2 separate regions of the Homo sapiens genome follow, and region 2 is linked to region 1. The links come from fine-mapping of genetic effects on plasma protein levels. Region 1 holds a variant in brackets. A gene starts in the other region. All regions are shown on their reverse strands.

What was found. A credible set is the group of variants that fine-mapping cannot tell apart. PIP is the chance, under the fine-mapping model, that this variant and not a neighbour inherited with it causes the effect. Protein levels are from antibody-based Olink assays in UK Biobank. Linkage for the fine-mapping came from a reference panel and not from the study's own genotypes, which makes the PIPs less certain.
Region 2: LAMB1 starts here. The variant in region 1 is the best candidate, but not a certain one, in a credible set for the plasma level of the LAMB1 protein (UK Biobank, PIP 0.66).

The regions. Positions count from the first base shown.
Region 1 is chr19:55,525,530-55,528,429 of GRCh38, reverse strand. No RefSeq gene overlaps it. Among named protein-coding and RNA genes, the nearest start is that of SBK2, 10 kb to the left of the region's middle. RefSeq lists an enhancer at 1,399-2,273. The variant T/C (reference allele first, on the strand shown) is at 1,697.
Region 2 is chr7:108,001,746-108,004,645 of GRCh38, reverse strand. It overlaps LAMB1 (laminin subunit beta 1), which reads left to right and starts at 1,485. Exons shown (of 34, transcript NM_002291.3): 1 at 1,485-1,535; 2 at 1,675-1,797. The coding sequence starts at 1,761.

The sequences.
Region 1 (2,900 bases):
AGGAGAGATGCAGATAGAAAAACAGACACACAAAAAGAAACAGGTGGAGGAAGAGAGAGAGAGAAACAGACACAGACACATACAGAGATAGAAAGAGAAACAGACAGAGACAGAGAGAGAAACAGAGATGGAGAGAGACAAACACAGGAAGAGAGACACAGACAGAAAAGAGACAGAGAGGAAGGGAGAGAGAGAGACGGAGGGGCGAGGATGAGCTGCCTGAGCTCATGGTGCTGCCTGAGCCTCCCTGCTGTCCTGCAGGGGGTCCTGATGGCAGAGCTGTGGGCAGGAGGGAGTGAGCCACCTGCTTCTAAGAATCCCTCTCCTTTACCAAACCAAAGTTTGTGTGCTAACAATGGAATGAAAGATATGGTTCTCAAAGCTTCCATCAAGGAACTCTATATGCATGTGTGCATGAGTGTGTGTGAGTGTGCATGTGTGTGAGTGTATGCGTGTGCATATGAGTGTGAGAGTGCACATCTGTGCAAGTGTGAATGTCGTGAGCATGAGTGTGTGCCAGTGAGTGTGCACGTGTCTGAGTGTGAGTGTGCGTGCATGCGAGTGTGCACATTGTGCGAGTGTGTGCGCGTGTGTGCAATTGTGAGTGTGTGCATGTGTGTGCAAATGTGTGCAAGTCAGTAATGTGTGAGCATGAGTATGTGTGCCAGTGTGCGTGTGTCCATGAGTGTGAGTGTGCATGTGTCCATGAGTATGCGTATGTGTGCCAGTGTGCATGTGTGTCCATGAGTGTGAGTGTGCATGTGTCCATGAGTATGCGTATGTGTGCCAGTGTGCATGTGTGTCCATGAGTGTGAGTGTGCATGTGTGTCCATGAGTATGTGTGTGTGCGTGAGTGTGCACATGTGTGTGAATGTGTGTGAATGTGTGTGTGCAAGTGTGCACATATGTGCAAGTGTGAATGTCCTGTGTGCATGAGTGTGTGTGCGATTGAGTGTATACATATGCATATGTGAGTACAAGTGTGCACATGTGTGCAAGTGTGAATGTCATACGTGAGCATGTGCCAGTGTTCATCTGTGTCCACGAGTATGTGTGTGCATGTGTGTGCAAGTGTGAACGAGTGTGCACATGTGTGCACATGTAAATTCGTGGGTGAGCATGAGTGTGTACGCCAGTGACTGTGCGTGTGTGTCCATGACTTGCGTGTGTGTGCACATGTGTGCAAGTATGAATGTGTGTGCGTGCGTGTGAGTACAAGTGTGCACATATGTGCAAGTGTGACTGTCCTGTGCATGAGTGTGTGTGAGTGTGTGCGTGTGTGTGCGATTGAGTATGCATATGCATAAGTGAGTACAAGTGTGCACATGTGTGCAAGTGTGTGTCATGTGTGAGCATGAGTATGTGTGCCAGTGAGTATTCATGTGTCCACGAGTATGTGTGTGTGCATGTGTGCAAGTGTGAATGTGTGTGCATGTATGAGTGTGCACATGTGTGCACATGTAAATTCGTGGGTGAGCATGAGTGTGTACGCCAGTGAGTGTACATGTGTAAGCATAAGTGTGTGTGCACGTGTGTGCAAGTGTGAATGTCATGTGTGAGCATGAGTATGTGTACGCCAGTGTGAGTGTGCATGTGTGAGCATGTGTGTGCACGTGTGTGAATGCATATGCATGGAAAGGAGGGAGGATGGCGTTGTGTGTCTCACTGCACGTGGATGATAATACAGCTTTGTGCC[T/C]GCTGTGTCTGCATGAGCATCTGAGCTTGTGTGTGCTGACGTACTTGTGTGTATGGGGAGTGAATGTGACTTGCTATGTGTGGACATCGGATCCGTGTGTGTGCGCGCATATGCCTGTCAATGTGTAGCCAGGGTGGGAAGGTCACGCAGGCGCCGCGGGCGGGCGCCGCCTGGGCCTTCTCTCCTTCGCACCTTCCTCCTCTCTCCCCCGCCCCTGCTTGGCAGCTGCCCTGTTTGCAAACACTGTCTCTTCCTCTCCGCGCCCTCCTTGGCCTCAGGCCCAGAGCAAGGCTACAACTCGGAGCTGGATCGTGTGTCACGCACTCCCTGGCCCCTGCATACCCCGCAGGGCGCCTGCTGTGGCCACCGAGGTGTTGCCTGGAGCGGGGCTGACAGCAGGTGTGCTCCTGTGGAGTGACCCCAAGGAGCCTTCGAATCCAGGTTCAAGCCATAGAGTTGGGGCCTCTGACCTGGACAATCCGGGTGAGCTTCCTGGAGTAGGGATCATTGGGGAGAAGAGGGGAGTCAACAACGCGGGGGGTGGGGGGTGGGGGTGGAATATATCAAGACTTCCTGCCCCTTTATCTGTGAATCTGAAATAGCCTGAGCTGTTAGGCCAAGAATGTGTCCCAAAAAGCTGGAGGTGGCTGGGATGCGGCATGCTGGGTGGGAGTGGAGACTGGGCAGGGGGCAGGGGGGCACGAGGTGTTGATTGCTGGCGGCAGCTGAGGATTATCTGAAAGGTGATAATGACCAGCCTGTCATGGGTGAAGCACAGGGGAGGACATAAACTTCCCAGGAATGGCCTGACCCCGGCAGGCAGGCAGGCAGGGACGACACTAATTAAGTAATGCTTAGTGCTGGCCGGAGGCTGAACCCCAACCAGGGATCTCAGAGGCCACGTCTGCTCCCCGACCTGTCCCCAAGATGGTGGCGGGGGTCCCTGGGCTCTGCCCATCTCACGCACGGGGCAGCCAGGTTCCCGCCGTGCCCACACACCGGGCCGGGGGGCAAAGCCTGGAGTCGAACCCAGCTGGGCTCCAGCACATGGTCCCTGCTGTTAACCTGCAGGGATGTCCTGCCGTGCTCAGCGGGAGGAGGGGCTTGGGGGCACGGGGGTGTGGGTGAGTGGGCGGGTGGGGGTGAGGGTGTGTGTGCGGGTGATTGTGAGTGTGCATGAGGGAGTAAGCTTGTGAGCGTGAGC
Region 2 (2,900 bases), not on the chromosome of region 1:
GACCCCAAGGCTCCCGCCTGCCTCAGACTCGTGCAGGCTTACGAACTCGTAAAGCAGCTGACTCTATGGTCTAATGATTAAACTTCTCTGGGCCTTATTTCGTTACAGCTAAGTTAAAAACTGACCAGCTAGCCGCTTAAACTCTTCTCCCGGAAATGACTGGAAAACAAGCCAAGTCTCCTGACTGGACTGACAACTAACTATACTCCCTGAATTCCAGCCACATTTGCCCAGAGCAGGACTCCAAGCTTTGACTCTGTCCATTGCTAAGGGTAGCAGAATGGGTGGTGGGGTCCCGTCACCAACCTCTTTTCCCTCTCCAACCCCTAGAAGGTGGTGAGTTTCTATGTACCCCTAATTTCACCAGGCAGGTTACACTGTGTTGTTAGAGACCCTTCATTAGAGGCCCTCTCCCCACCTCAGCATTTGCACACCATGGAGAATCGTCGAGATGAGCGTTGTGGGGAAGTGCCTCTCATGAGAGATTTCCACTTCCTGGCTGTGTCAACTCTTCCACGGCGAGATGGGAAACGGAGTCAGTAACAATAATAGTGTCATTTGAGGAATTACCTGAGCTAAAGCCATCATCTGGATATAGGTAGGAAGATTTTTTTTTTTTTTTGAGACGTAGTTTTGCTCTTGTTGCCCAGGCTGGAGTGCAATGGCACGATCCCGGTTCACGGCAACCTCCTTCTCCCAGGTTCAAGCGATTTTCGTGCCTCGGCCTCCCGAGTAGCTGGGATTACAGGCGCCCGCCACCACGCCCAGCTAATTTTTGTATTTTTAGTAGAGATGGAGTTGCACCATGTTGGAAGTAGATTTTTTAAAAACAGAACTGGACGTTCAATTCAATGCCGTGACCACCTGGGTAACAGGGATTACAGATAGGTCCTGAATAAATGTGTGCGCAAAGAATTGCAGGGCGCACAGAGCTTCTCCTCCTTCCTAGGAAGACACTGTAGATGTCGCGCCCATCCCAAGCTCTTGGATACTAGGGGCGGAGAGGAAGTGTCACTTTCTAAAGAACAAACACGACAGGTCGACCCTGTTTCTAAAGGGTTAACCCGCCTTCCCCGAGCGCACCGCACGAGAGTTTTAGCCGTGGGCACGTTTGGTGATTCACTTCTTGCGAACGTAAATGCGCGAGTCCGCGGTAGGTCCCGCCGGCCCCCTGGCTGGGCAACCTGAAAACCCACCTCGGAGACGCCCCCACGCATCCGCCCCCCTCGCTGGACGGCCCCGCCGCGCGCCGTTCTGGGACGCGCACCCCGGGGCGGACCCGCCCTGGGACCTGGAAGCGCCCCAGCCCCGCAGCGATCGCAGATTCGGCTTTCAAACAAAAGAGGCGCCCCGGGGGGTGGGACCGGGACCTCACCCGGTCCTCGCAGAGTTGCGGCCGCCCGCCCCTTCAGCCCCGGCTCTCCGTATGCGCATGAGCAGAGGCGCCTCCCTCTGTTCCTCCCAAGGCTAAACTTTCTAATTCCCTTCTTTGGGCTCGGGGGCTCCCGGAGCAGGGCGAGAGCTCGCGTCGCCGGGTGAGGAGAACAAAGTGGCTGCACGATTTTCCCCACTTTCCAGCCCACCCCCCGCTTCCGTGGGAGCGACAGGAAATGGAAGGGCGCCTCTTCTCTCTTTGAACATTTGCCTTTTTTCCCCTCCTTTCCACCTCTCCAGAAAGGAAGACGGGAAGAAAGGGCAGGCGGCTCGGCGGGCGTCTTCTCCACTCCTCTGCCGCGTCCCCGTGGCTGCAGGGAGCCGGCATGGGGCTTCTCCAGTTGCTAGCTTTCAGTTTCTTAGGTAATTCCGTGGAAACGGTGCGGGGAGGCGGACGGACTTGGGCATGGGGAAGGAAAACCCAAAAGCTGCTTGCTCACCTTCGTGGGATCCTGGGGGCTTGGGAGAGGGACTGGATGGAAATGACGCCCCTGGGATTAAACGCCACCGCCCTTGCTTCGGTGGTGGCTGGAGACAGCGCACGCGGAGCGCCGCGGACCCTCATCCCCCGGGCTCTGCGCCCAAGCCCCGGCCCCTGCGGCCTCCCGCGGCCCCCGCTCAGGGTTTTGCACCCTCGGCCGGTTCACCCTGGGTTTCCCCACCGCAGAGGGCAGGTTCCCTGGGGTTGGCGGTGCTGACCGAGGAGGGCTCTCCAAAAATCCATTGCCCAGGAGAGTGCCTGAGCTGAGCGGAGGCTTCATTCTGGGAACAGATGGGGGCCATGTGGCTTTAATTAACCATCTCTGTTTGTCTCCGGATGGCACCAGAAACAGCAGGACCTGGCGCTTCCCTGGAATGGAGAAGCCTTGAAACCACTCCAGAGCCCCAGGGACTGTCCATGGGCTCCCCTAGCTCCGGAAAGCGGCGTCCACCGCGAGCCCCGGCGCCTCGTCCCCAGCGAAGCGCCGGTGACCCTCGCGCGTGCACGCACACGCACTCTCGCTTCCCAAGCTCACAGATCTCCACGCGCACACTCACACCGAGGATGCGCGGGCTGCCGCGTGCACGCGGGTTCACGTGCGTGGGTGTGTGGCCCTTTGGGGGTCAGCCTCCCTGCGCCGGGCTCCGGACACGTCGAAGTGGAGGGTCTACACATCCACCCTTTGTTGGGGGAGCTGCTCCCCGGGGCTGATCAGGGTGGGCGCGAGCGTCGGTGGGTTTCCCGGGAGGGAGGCTCTCGCTGCTGGACAGACCTGATGACGTGTGTGGGTTTCTTTCCGTGTCCTTCTCCTTTCGGAGTCCCTGCCTTCCCAGCCTCTCCTGCGCTCATCTCTCCATTGTCTTTTCTGTGCATTTTGCTTTCTTCCGAATGGACTGTCCTCTCTCCGCACCCACTCCCCCGCCCCCGCTTGTTCGTTTTTTTCGGGCTCCACTCCCTGCTTGTGTCCCCCCAACTCTGTTGCCTG